Regions from separate parts of the Homo sapiens genome. Here region 2 is linked to region 1. Evidence: fine-mapped expression QTL. Tissue or cell type: unexposed skin. Region 1 holds a variant in brackets; the other region holds the start of a gene. All regions are shown on one strand. Distances are from middle to middle.

The links. PIP is the estimated chance that this variant, and not a neighbour inherited with it, causes the effect.
Region 2: KLK1 starts here. The variant in region 1 is the best candidate, but not a certain one, in a credible set for the expression of KLK1 in unexposed skin (GTEx, PIP 0.62).

What each region holds. Positions count from the first base shown.
Region 1 is chr19:50,869,907-50,877,896 of GRCh38, forward strand. KLK2 (kallikrein related peptidase 2) reads left to right here and starts at 3,533. Exons shown (of 5, transcript NM_005551.5): 1 at 3,533-3,613; 2 at 4,815-4,974; 3 at 6,566-6,852; 4 at 6,966-7,102. The coding sequence starts at 3,568. RefSeq lists promoters at 1-3,558, 2,933-3,558, 3,205-3,558, enhancers at 1-145, 587-881, 3,357-3,371 and a cis regulatory region at 3,357-3,371. The variant A/G (reference allele first, on the strand shown) is at 3,344.
Region 2 is chr19:50,821,488-50,826,615 of GRCh38, forward strand. It overlaps KLK1 (kallikrein 1), which reads right to left and starts at 2,300. Exons shown (of 5, transcript NM_002257.4): 1 at 2,216-2,300; 2 at 225-384. The coding sequence starts at 2,261. KLK15 (kallikrein related peptidase 15) reads right to left here. Exons shown (of 6, transcript NM_017509.4): 6 at 3,802-4,461. The coding sequence ends at 4,309.

The sequences.
Region 1 (7,990 bases):
TAGTGTGTCTACCACATCTGGCTTCACTGTGCCTAACCAAGATTTCTAGGTCCAGTTCCCCACCATGTTTGGCAGTGCCCCACTGCCAACCCCAGAATAAGGGAGTGCTCAGAATTTCGAGGGGACATGGGTGGGGATCAGAACTTCTGGGCTTGAGTGCAGAGGGGGCCCATACTCCTTGGTTCCGAAGGAGGAAGAGGCTGGAGGTGAATGTCCTTGGAGAGGAGGAATGTGGGTTCTGAACTCTTAAATCCCCAAGGGAGGAGACTGGTAAGGTCCCAGCTTCCGAGGTACTGACGTGGGAATGGCCTGAGAGGTCTAAGAATCCCGTATCCTCGGGAAGAAGGGGCTGAAATTGTGAGGGGTTGAGTTGCAGGGGTTTGTTAGCTTGAGACTCCTTGGTGGGTCCCTGGGAAGCAAGGACTGGAACCATTGGCTCCAGGGTTTGGTGTGAAGGTAATGGAATCTCCTGATTCTCAAAGGGTCAGAGGACTGAGAGTTGCCCATGCTTTGATCTTTCCATCTACTCCTTACTCCACTTGAGGGTAATCACCTACTCTTCTAGTTCCACAAGAGTGCGCCTGCGCGAGTATAATCTGCACATGTGCCATGTCCCGAGGCCTGGGGCATCATCCACTCATCATTCAGCATCTGCACTATGCGGGCGAGGCCGGCGCCATGACGTCATGTAGCTGCGACTATCCCTGCAGCGCGCCTCTCCCGTCACGTCCCAACCATGGAGCTGTGGACGTGCGTCCCCTGGTGGATGTGGCCTGCGTGGTGCCAGGCCGGGGCCTGGTGTCCGATAAAGATCCTAGAACCACAGGAAACCAGGACTGAAAGGTGCTAGAGAATGGCCATATGTCGCTGTCCATGAAATCTCAAGGACTTCTGGGTGGAGGGCACAGGAGCCTGAACTTACGGGTTTGCCCCACTCCACTGTCCTCCCAAGTGAGTCTCCCAGATACGAGGCACTGTGCCAGCATCAGCTTCATCTGTACCACATCTTGTAACAGGGACTACCCAGGGCCCTGATGAACACCATGGTGTGTGCAGGAAGAGCGGGTGAAGGCACGGACTCCTGTGTGGTCAGAGCCCAGAGGGGGCCATGACGGGTGGGGAGGAGGCTGTGGACTGGCTCGAGAAGTGGGATGTGGTTGTGTTTGATCTCCTTTGGCCAGATAAAGTGCTGGATATAGCATTGAAAACGGAGTATGAAGACCAGTTAGAATGGAGGGTCAGGTTGGAGTTGAGTTACAGATGGGGTAAAATTCTGCTTCGGATGAGTTTGGGGATTGGCAATTTAAAGGTGGTTTGGGATGGCATGGCTTTGGGATGGAAATAGGTTTGTTTTTATGTTGGCTGGGAAGGGTGTGGGGATTGAATTGGGGATGAAGTAGGTTTAGTTTTGGAGATAGAATACATGGAGCTGGCTATTGCATGCGAGGATGTGCATTAGTTTGGTTTGATCTTTAAATGAAGGAGGCTATTAGGGTTGTCTTGAATTAGATTAAGTTGTGTTGGGTTGATGGGTTGGGCTTGTGGGTGATGTGGTTGGATTGGGCTGTGTTAAATTGGTTTGGGTCAGGTTTTGGTTGAGGTTATCATGGGGATGAGGATATGCTTGGGACACTGGATTCAGGTGGTTCTCATTCAAGCTGAGGCAAATTTCCTTTCAGACGGTCATTCCAGGGAACGAGTGGTTGTGTGGGGGAAATCAGGCCACTGGCTGTGAATATCCCTCTATCCTGGTCTTGAATTGTGATTATCTATGTCCACTTCTGTCTCCTTCACTGTACTTGGAATTGATCTGGTCATTCAGCTGGAAATGGGGGAAGATTTTGTCAAATTCTTGAGACACAGCTGGGTCTGGATCAGCGTAAGCTGCTCTGGTTTTATTGAACAGATGAAATCACATTTTTTTTTTCAAAATCAAAGAAATCTTATAGAGTTAACAGTGGACTCTTATAATAAGAGTTAACACCAGGACTCTTATTCTTGATTCTTTTCTGAGACACCAAAATGAGATTTCTCAATGCCACCCTAATTCTTTTTTTTTTTTTTTTTTTTTTTGAGACACAGTCTGGGTCTTTTGCTCTGTCACTCAGGCTGGAGCGCAGTGGTGTGATCATAGCTCACTGAACCCTTGACCTCCTGGACTTAAGGGATCCTCCTGCTTCAGCCTCCTGAGTAGATGGGGCTACAGGTGCTTGCCACCACACCTGGCTAATTAAATTTTTTTTTTTTTTTTGTAGAGAAAGGGTCTCACTTTGTTGCCCTGGCTGATCTTGAACTTCTGACTTCAAGTGATTCTTCAGCCTTGGACTCCCAAAGCACTGGGATTGCTGGCATGAGCCACTCACCGTGCCTGGCTTGCAGCTTAATCTTGGAGTGTATAAACCTGGCTCCTGATAGCTAGACATTTCAGTGAGAAGGAGGCATTGGATTTTGCATGAGGACAATTCTGACCTAGGAGGGCAGGTCAACAGGAATCCCCGCTGTACCTGTACGTTGTACAGGCATGGAGAATGAGGAGTGAGGAGCCACCGGAACCCCATATTGTTTAGTGGACATTGGATTTTGAAATAATAGGGAACTTGGTCTGGGAGAGTCATATTTCTGGATTGGACAATATGTGGTATCACAAGGTTTTATGATGAGGGAGAAATGTATGTGGGGAACCATTTTCTGAGTGTGGAAGTGCAAGAATCAGAGAGTACTGAATGCCAACGCTTCTATTTCAGGAACATGGTAAGTTGGAGGTCCAGCTTCTGGGCTCAGACGGGTATAGGGACCAGGAAGTCTCACAATCCGATCATTCTGATATTTCAGGGCATATTAGGTTTGGGGTGCAAAGGAAGTACTTGGGACTTAGGCACATGAGACTTTGTATTGAAAATCAATGATTGGGGCTGGCCGTGGTGGCTCACGCCTGTAATCTCATCACTTTGGGAGACCGAAGTGGGAGGATGGCTTGAGCCCAGGAGTTGGAGACCAGCCTAGGCAACATAGCCAGACCCTCTCTCTACAAAAAAATTAAAAATTAGCTGGATGTGGTGGTGCATGCTTGTGGTCTCAGCTATCCTGGAGGCTGAGACAGGAGAATCGGTTGAGTCTGGGAGTTCAAGGCTACAGGGAGCTGCGATCACGCCGCTGCACTCCAGCCTGGGAAACAGAGTGAGACTGTCTCAGAATTTTTTTAAAAAAGAATCAGTGATCATCCCAACCCCTGTTGCTGTTCATCCTGAGCCTGCCTTCTCTGGCTTTGTTCCCTAGATCACATCTCCATGATCCATAGGCCCTGCCCAATCTGACCTCACACCGTGGGAATGCCTCCAGACTG[A/G]TCTAGTATGTGTGGAACAGCAAGTGCTGGCTCTCCCTCCCCTTCCACAGCTCTGGGTGTGGGAGGGGGTTGTCCAGCCTCCAGCAGCATGGGGAGGGCCTTGGTCAGCATCTAGGTGCCAACAGGGCAAGGGCGGGGTCCTGGAGAATGAAGGCTTTATAGGGCTCCTCAGGGAGGCCCCCCAGCCCCAAACTCACCACCTGGCCGTGGACACCTGTGTCAGCATGTGGGACCTGGTTCTCTCCATCGCCTTGTCTGTGGGGTGCACTGGTGAGATTGGGGGGATAAAGGAAGGGGGGCGGGTTCTGACTCTTATGCTGAAGCCCTTTTCCTCCCACCCAGTGCCCCAGCCTCGTCCCTTCAGCCCACAGTTCAGCCCAGACAATGTGCCCCTGACTCTTCCACATTGCAATAGTCCTCATGCCCACACTAGGTCCCCGCTCCCTCCCACTTACCTCAGACCTTTCTCTCCATTGCCCAGCCAAATCCCTGCTCCCAGCTGCTTTACTAAAGAGCAAGTTCCTGGGCATCTCTGTGTTTCTCTTTATGGGGTTCAAAACCTTTCAAGGACCTCTCTCCATGCCACTGGTTCCTTGGACCCTATCACTGGGCTGCCTCCTGAGCCCCTCAGTCCTACCACAGTCTACTGACTTTTCCTATTCAGCTGTGAGCATTCAACCCTGTCCCCTGGACCTTGACACCTGGCTCCCCAACCCTGTCCCAGGAAACCCAGATTCCACCAGACACTTCCTTCTTCCCCCCGAGGCTATCTGGCCTGAGACAACAAATGCTGCCTCCCACCCTGAGTCTGGCACTGGGACTTTCAGAACTCCTCCTTCCCTGACTCTTTGCCCCAGACCCGTCATTCAATGGCTAGCTTTTTCCATGGGAAAAACACGAGCACCCCCAACCACAACGGCCAGTTCTCTGATTCCCTAAATCCGCACCCTTTTCAAAACCTCAAAAACAAAACAAAACAAAACAAAGCAAGAAACAACTCAGGCAGAACTGTTTGCTTAACCTTGGACATGGTAAACCATCCAAAACCTTCCTCTCCCAGCAACTAAACCTCTCCACTGGGCACTTATCCTTGGTTTCTGGAACCTCTTATTCTCTTAGAACCCACAGCTGCCACCACAGTGTCCCTTCTCCCAGTGTAAGACCCCAAATCACTCCAAATGACCCAACCCCCAACCCGATGCCTGCTTCAGATGTTTCCCATGTCCCCTACTCTGATCTCTGGGGTCAGCTCCGTTCTCAGAGCATGAAGCCTCCCGACCTGGTCCAGCCACCAACCCGCTAACGCAGGGAATAGCTACAGAATTGCCAGCCCTCCCAGGACCCCTTGCTTGTGTCCTGGACTCCCAGTCCTGGTCCTCTGCCCCCATGTCTCTTCAAACCCACAGCTCAGCTCCCTCCCCTATCCAATTCTTTTGGGTCTGATCCCCCTGACCCAGCACCCCCTCCGCAGGTGCCGTGCCCCTCATCCAGTCTCGGATTGTGGGAGGCTGGGAGTGTGAGAAGCATTCCCAACCCTGGCAGGTGGCTGTGTACAGTCATGGATGGGCACACTGTGGGGGTGTCCTGGTGCACCCCCAGTGGGTGCTCACAGCTGCCCATTGCCTAAAGAAGTAAGTAGGACCCTGGGATCTGGGGAGGGAATGGCTGTGTCCCACAGGAATAACAGCGGGATGCTTCCCCCAGGGTCACTTCTCAGGTGAGGCTTCAGACTAAAGGAGAGAGGGAAGGTCCTGGCCCAGGTCGCACCCGGAGGCAGAGCTGGGGCTGGACCACTCTCCCCATGGCTGCCTGGGTTTCTCTCTGTGTCTGATCTCGCTGTGTCTCTTGGTATCTGGCTCTGGTTGTGTCTGTATGACTGTGTTTTGGTCTCTATGTCCCTCTCTCTTTTCTGTCTCCCTGTGTCTGTGTCTCCCCCGTCTCTGTCTCTGGGTCTCTCTGTGGCCATCTCTGTCACCGTGTGTCTCACCCTGCATCTCTTTGCCTGTCTTTCTCTCTGGGTCTCTGCCTCAGCCCTTCCTCATCACTACTGAACACACCCCGTGAGGGTGGGTGGGGAGCACCCAGAAAAAGGAAGGACTTTAAGCTCAATGTGTGTGCATGTGAGGGGGTGCCTGTCATTGCACAGCACTCTCTGCAGGACATCCCTCCACCCTGGGGAGACACAGGGAGGGCTGGTTTCAGCTGTAGCTGGGTGCACAATTGAGGAGGGAGGAAGGAGAAGGGGAAACAAGAAAGGAGGGGAAGGTGGCCGGGCACGGTGGCCCACGCCTGTAATCCCAGCACTTTGGGAGGCCGAGGTGGGTGGATCATCTGAGGTCAGGAGTTTGAAACCAGCCTGGCCAACATGGCAAAACCCCGTCTCTACTAAAAATACAAAAAGTAGCCAGGCGTGGTGCTGCGCGCCTGTAATCCCAATTACTAGGGAGGCTGAGGCAGGAGAATCGCTTGAACCCGGGAGGGAGAGGTTGCAGTGAGCCGAGATCGTGCCACTGCACTCCAGCCTGGGTGACAGAGCAAGACTCCATCTCAGAAAAAACAAACAAACAAACAAACAACAAAAAAAATCGAAAGGAGGGGAAGGGAGCTGGAGAGAGAAAGGGGGACGTGGCCCTGAGCTGTGGGCCGGGCCACCCGCCACTACAGAGCCCTCACTCCAGCCCCAGCTGCAGGTGAGCCACCCTCATGCCTCTCCTCCTCCCCCTGCTACTCCACACTCCTCAGATGCCCCCGTGGCCTCCCTCCTTTTTCTCTCCCACACTGTATCACCCCTGGCTTCCTCTCTGCTGTTTCTCCTTCTCTCTCTGACTTCCCGCATCCTTTTCTCATTTGTCTATTTCTCACTCCCTTCCTGGTTCTGTTCTTTCTCCCTTCCTCTTCCCCATGTCTATTTCTTGCTGTCTCTGTCTCTTCTTTGCTCATCCTAATTCTCACTGTTCTCCCTTCTGTTTTTGTCATTCCTCTGCCATTTTATGCTCTCTCTTTTCCACTTCGTTTCTTTCAGTTTCTGTCTCTGCCTCTCACATGATCACACTCCTGTTTTCTAACTCACTGTCTGTATTTCACCACGACTATATCTCCCCGACCCCTGTGCTTTTCTCACTGTTTCTTTTTCTTCCCTTTGGAGTCTCCCTTATCCTCCCCTGCCCCATCTACCTTTCCCCATTTTCTCTCTCCTCATGCATCCACCCCCTTCCTCCCCAGGAATAGCCAGGTCTGGCTGGGTCGGCACAACCTGTTTGAGCCTGAAGACACAGGCCAGAGGGTCCCTGTCAGCCACAGCTTCCCACACCCGCTCTACAATATGAGCCTTCTGAAGCATCAAAGCCTTAGACCAGATGAAGACTCCAGCCATGACCTCATGCTGCTCCGCCTGTCAGAGCCTGCCAAGATCACAGATGTTGTGAAGGTCCTGGGCCTGCCCACCCAGGAGCCAGCACTGGGGACCACCTGCTACGCCTCAGGCTGGGGCAGCATCGAACCAGAGGAGTGTACGCCTGGGCCAGATGGTGTAGCTGGGAGCCCAGATGCCTGGGTCTGAGGGAAGTGGGGCCAAAGAACCAGGTGGGGTCCGGCCACAGCCCAGTTTTTCTCTGACCCATAGTCTTGCGCCCCAGGAGTCTTCAGTGTGTGAGCCTCCATCTCCTGTCCAATGACATGTGTGCTAGAGCTTACTCTGAGAAGGTGACAGAGTTCATGTTGTGTGCTGGGCTCTGGACAGGTGGTAAAGACACTTGTGGGGTGAGTCATCCCTACTCCCAACATCTGGAGGGGAAAGGTGAGTGAAGACCCTAATTCTGGGCTGCAATCTGAAAGCTAACCAGACATCTGCCTCCCCTGCTCCCCAGCTATAGCCACGCCCCCTCCCCATGCCTCATCTGCCGCCCTCCTTCCCCCTTCCCTGACTCCCTCAACACAAGAGGTGATTCTCACAGCATAATTCACCCATTCCTGTGTTGAGCACATGCTTACTGGGCACCTGCTACGTGACCAGCATTGCCGTAGACCCTGGGAAGCAGCAGTGAACAGGTAGAGAGCAGCCTCTCCCTCCTGCAGCCCCCATGCTGGTGAGGGGCACTGGCAGGAACAGTGGACCCAACATGGAAATGCTGGAGGGTGTCAGGAAGTGATCGGGCTCTGGGGCAGGGAGGAGGGGTGGGGAGTGTCACTGGGAGGGGACATCCTGCAGAAGGTAGGAGTGAGCAAACACCCGCTGCAGGGGAGGGGAGAGCCCTGCGGCACCTGGGGGAGCAGAGGGAGCAGCACCTGCCCAGGCCTGGGAGGAGGGGCCGGGAGGGCGTGAGGAGGAGCGAGGGGGCTGCATGGCTGGAGTGAGGGATCAGGGGCAGGGCGCGAGATGGCCTCACACAGGGAAGAGAGGGCCCCTCCTGCAGGGCCTCACCTGGGCCACAGGAGGACACTGCTTTTCCTCTGAGGAGTCAGGAGCTGTGGATGGTGCTGGACAGAAGAAGGACAGGGCCTGGCTCAGGTGTCCAGAGGCTGTCGCTGGCTTCCCTTTGGGATCAGACTGCAGGGAGGGAGGGCGGCAGGGTTGTGGGGGGAGTGACGATGAGGATGACCTGGGGGTGGCTCCAGGCCTTGCCCCTGCCTGGGCCCTCACCCAGCCTC
Region 2 (5,128 bases), 50 kb before region 1:
ACAGTCACACAGAGACACAAGCAGAACCAGATCCCAAGAGACCCAGGCAGCCTTGGAGAGGGGTGTCCAGCCCAGCTCTGCCCTGCCAGGCGACCTGCGCCAGAGCCTTCCTCTCTGCCTCAGCCCCCCAGTCTTGCCTGAGGTTATCCAAGGGGAATGCCACTGGCCTGTCAATCCTGTGGCAGCATAGATGCCCTCCTCCCAGACCCCAGGCCCCTACTCACTCGCTGATGCAATGAGCAGCTGTGAGCACCCACTGGCGGTGCACCAGGATGCCCCCACACTGGAAAGTGCTGAAATGGTACAGAGCCGCCTGCCAGGGCTGGGAATGCTGCTCACACTCCCAGCCTCCCACAATCCGGGACTGAATCGGGGGCGCAGCACCTGCAGAGGCGGTGCTGGGTCAGGAAGGGCAGGGTTGGCAGGAGAGGCCAGGGACAAGGCTAGGAGAGGGAGCTGGGCTGTGGGTCTGAAGGGACATTGCGGGTAGAGGACCAGGGCTGGAGGTTGGGGACATGGGCAAGGGGTGTTGGGAAGGGGTGGGACTCTGGACTGTTCCCTGGGCTTTTGGAGTGGTGGCTGGACCTGGTGGGGAGATTTTGTGCTCTGACAGTAGAGCAGCCTCCAGGGATCAGGGTAGGAGACAGGAGACAGTGTCTGGAGCAGACACTGCATCTGGGCGTCAGGTCATTTGGGGTCTGGGGCTGGGGGATGGGAGGTGGTGGGTTAGGGGAGTGGAAAGGGATTCTGGAAACCAGGGATCAAGGCGCCAAGGGTGGGACAGGATCAGAGGCTCACTGAGGAAGAATCTGGAGGGCTAAGGGGCTCCTAGGCTAGGGAAACAGGACCTGGGTTGGGCTTTTGAGGTTCAGGAAAGGATGCAGCTTTAGGGAACCAGGTCTGAGAGGTAAAGAAGAGCATCTGGACTGAAGAGTTTGGGGGTGACTTGGGGTCCCTACATTGGGGTTGGAAGGGGCCAGCTTGGCTGGGACAGTTAGATTTCAGGGCTTCCTGGTTAAAGGGTAAAAGAAAGGGCTATGGTTAAGGCTAGAGGTGGGCTTCCGAGAGGTTTTGGGGTCCTTCCTGTGAACCAGGAATGGCAATCTGAGGGGAGGTTGGGGCCCTGAGAACACAGTTGCGGTCAGGACTGGGACGGGGCTCAGGAGGAGGGAGGCGTGAGTGGCAGTCCTTCTCGGACAGGGTGAAGGATGGGATCTTCGTTTCTCATGGGGATGGGGTTCATGGTCTGAGGGTACTGGAAGGATATGGGGTCCTCTTGGAGGCAATCCTAGGAAGAGGATTGGAGAAGTGGTGAGAACAGGCGCCAAGCAGCTGTGGGAATGCAATGCAGGACCCACTTGACGTGAGGTTGTAGAATCACATACTGACTTGGGGGAGGCCAGGGCAGAAGCGCTGGCTGAGAAGGCATTCAGGATCCTTGGGGTGGGGTTCCAGAAAACCAGAGCTGTGTAGGAACAATTCAGGCAGAGAAGGGCTGGGGCCTGGGGCGGGATGGAACTTCCCCAAGGAAAGGAGCATGTGGTGGGAGGGTGTGGTGTTTTTCCTGGGAGAGCTGGGGGTGCTGGGTGGGAAGGGACATTTGCAGACCCCCCCCCATACCAGATGGGGGATCCCACATGCCAGTTTGGGAAGCAGGGTTTTCTGGTGAAATTTGGGGGACCCTGGAAGGACTGGGGAGACCAGATGTCAGGGTCTGGAGGACACAGTTGAGAGCGGACAGCTGGATGGAAAAAGTCACTGGAGTGTGGTGGGATTTGTAGACTCAGGAGCCAAATAGGTGGCCGCAGGGAACTAGGGGGCAGGAGGGGATGATCAGAGTCCTGTGGGGTGGGGGAAGCCCATGGGAGGGTTGGGGTCCTCCAGAGAGAGACAGAGATGGCCCAGAATCTGCCCCTTTGGTAAAGCGGTGGGACAGGGCGTTGGCTAGGGAAGAGGAGAAAGTACTGAGGCTTCCTGGGAGGAGCAGGAATCTGGTGTGGGAGTGAGCACTATGACAACATGGAGGAGCGGGGGTGGAAGTTTAGGGTGGGGCCGCGCAAGATAGATAAGAGCCGGGGCACCCCGGACTAGGATAGACTGTGGGCCAGAGGGATGAGGGTGGGGTGTTGGAGGGGAAGGTCTTATCGGGGGGGGATGTGAGGCCAGCAAGAGAATCAGGGCCCGTTCCCCCTCCCACATCCCCCCACTGTCTCACCAGTCCCCCCCAGGGACAGGGCGAGGCACAGAACCAGGAACCACATGGTGACAGAGGTGTCCAGGGGCCAGCAGGTGGAGGAACTGGGGAACCTCCCTGGGGAGGCTTTTAAAAGCCCTTATCCCCTCAGAGCCCCACCCCTGCCCTGCTGGCACCCAGATGTTGGCCAAGGCCCTTCCCCTGTTGCCTGGGGGCTGGACAATTGCCCCCCCCCCCTCCGATCCCCAGAGCTGTAGACGGGGAGGGAGAACCAGCACCTGTTCTGCAGGCCCTGGATCACGCTGGACGCATTCCTGGGGTTGAAGCCAGGTGGGGCAGGGCCTGTGGCTCTGGGGCTTTGCTCTGGGGAGCAGCCAGTGAGGCAAGGGGGGACTGAGGGGAAGCAGAAACAGGAAGACGGAGGAATCAGTGACCCCTGGTACAAAGCCCCATATACCTCAGTCTCAATTAAGGCCCTGCACCCCCAGACCTGGTGCCCTCAAACACCAGCAGTTAGGGCTCTGATTCCCTGCACCACTCGGAGCCAAGATACTAGCATCTCAGCTGCCAGTTCCCCCTGAAATATAAGCCTTGGCCTTCAGAATGCCCTGGTTCTTGCACTCCCAGACCCAGGACCTAGGTCCCCAAAGCTACTGTTCCTTTCATAATAAAATTTTGGGGTACACATCACCACATTCCTAGTGCCTCCAGATCCAGGAATGTGAAGTTTCAGGGGTCTCCCAGGGTAAGTTCTTTAGCATTACAAAATCCAGTGTCCCTCCCAAACAATGCTGGGGTCTCAATGAGCCTCCCACTTCTTGCTCCCAGTTATGGGTGCTCAACGTCCTGTCCTCCAAAGTCCCAGAGATCTGGACAACCTTCCCTCCCAGGTCAAGATCAGGCTAACCACAGATTCCAATGACCCTTCCCCCCCACCACCAGTACAATATTTAGGTCTCACGAGCCAGGTTCATGTACTTCAACATTCAGCGACCTTGAACATCACATTTTGTGGTCTCTGAAGATAATTAGGAACTAGATTCCTGCAGCCTCAATGGTAAACCCATAGGCTTCCAACAGGTTGTCTTGGCTTTTTGGTAAAATCAAAGCAGCTCAGAGTTCCAGCCTCTGCTGTATATCAGGGACCTGGCTAAGGAAAGGACAGTATTTGCCTTTTTGCCATGGCTACCAGGAAGCCCAGAACTAAATCTTTTTTTTTTTTTTTTTTTTTCTGAGATGGAGTCTTGCTCTGTCACCAGGCTGGAGTGCAGTGGCGCGATCTCGGCTCACTGCAACTCCTGCCTCCTAAGTTCAAGCGATCCTCCCACATCACCCTCCCAAGTAGCTAGGATTACAGTCGTGTGCCACCACGCCCGGCTAAATTTTTTTAGTATTTTTAGTAGAGATGGGGTTTCACCATGTTGGCCAGGCTGGTCTTGCACTCCTGACCTCAAGTGAGCCGCCCGCCTTGGCCTCCCAAAGTGCTGGGATTACAGGTGTGAGCCACCATGCCCGGCCCAGAACTAAACCTTAAAGAAAAAGCCATTCTTGGTAATCTAGTGTCTGTTAGGTCCTTTAACTGGGATCCAGAGATAGAGGGTATTTACTCAGTGCCAGACACGATTTTAATCAGTTCAGACGAATCATCTCATTTAATCCTCACAACAGCCCTTTGAAGTCAGCAATAAGATGGTCTCATTTTACAGATAAGGAAACCAAGGCGAAGTGAGATTGGGCCTCTTGTTCAAGATCACACGGGTGGTCATGTGTGTTGAATGAATGGAGCCCTGCTTCAAGCCGCTTCTCCTCACCTAGGGATCGGGGTGGTGGGTGAAAAGGAACAGTGTACAGTGTCTCGGGGTTTCTCTTTGACCCCAGAAAAAAGTCACAGAAATTCCTACAGAGCAACTTGGATCAGCGCTTTGTTATCTTGGCATTAAACAGGTGACCTTGAGCGCCAGCTTTGTCCTCAGGTGGGACAAGTCCTTGGCTAACATCTGGGCCTTGGACAGGGTCTTGGGGGATGGCTCCGTTCTGTTCCATGTCAGGCGGGGCTGCTGGCCAGCTGTGGGGGCTTCTGCTCAGTCAGGGGCACAGGAGATAGGCTAGAATAGTCAGTTCCTCTTCATGGTTTCCCTGATCCACTCCAAGTAGTGGCAGACTTTGGTATAGACACCAGGCTTGGTGGTGTTGTCACAAGGGACGTCACCCCAGGACACAATGCCCTGCAGGATGCCCCCACAGACCAGGGGTCCCCCAGAGTCACCCTGTGGGGAAAAGAGGGGGTCTCAGGTTGAGTGAAACCTCCTGGATTCATCCTCATCCTAATCACCATTTGCAATCTCACCCCAAACCCAATCCATCCCCATCCCAGGGAACCCCAACCCAACTCAACTCAATACAGCCCAGTTTATCCCAAACAGAGCCAACCCAACCCCAACCCCAACCCCAATTCAACACAGCTCAATACAACTCACCCAACCTATATCCAATCTCACCCCCATGCAACTCCAGTGCAACTGTACTAAGTTAAATCCAACTCAGCCCACATCCTCACCATTCAAAATCAAATCAAACCCATGCCCATCTCAAAATCCAATCTCAATCTTCATGTCTTCTGCATTCCAAACAAAATCTACCTCATCCCAATTCAACCCTGACGTATTTCCCACCCAGAATCAAACCAAACCATTCCCATTCTCAACCCCAACCCATGCCATCTCAAACTAACTATCACATTATCCACCTCAAACAACGCAATCCCCACCTATAACCCCAACTCCAACCTCACCCCTATTCTAACTTCTCTTCCTACTCCATCTCCAAGCCTAACCCTAGCATCTTCTCTGGCCCAAAGCAAAGAAAATCCAACCCCATCCGGACTCCCACACCTGTCCCCATCCCTCTTCTTCCGCCTGATGGCCCCTCTAGGCT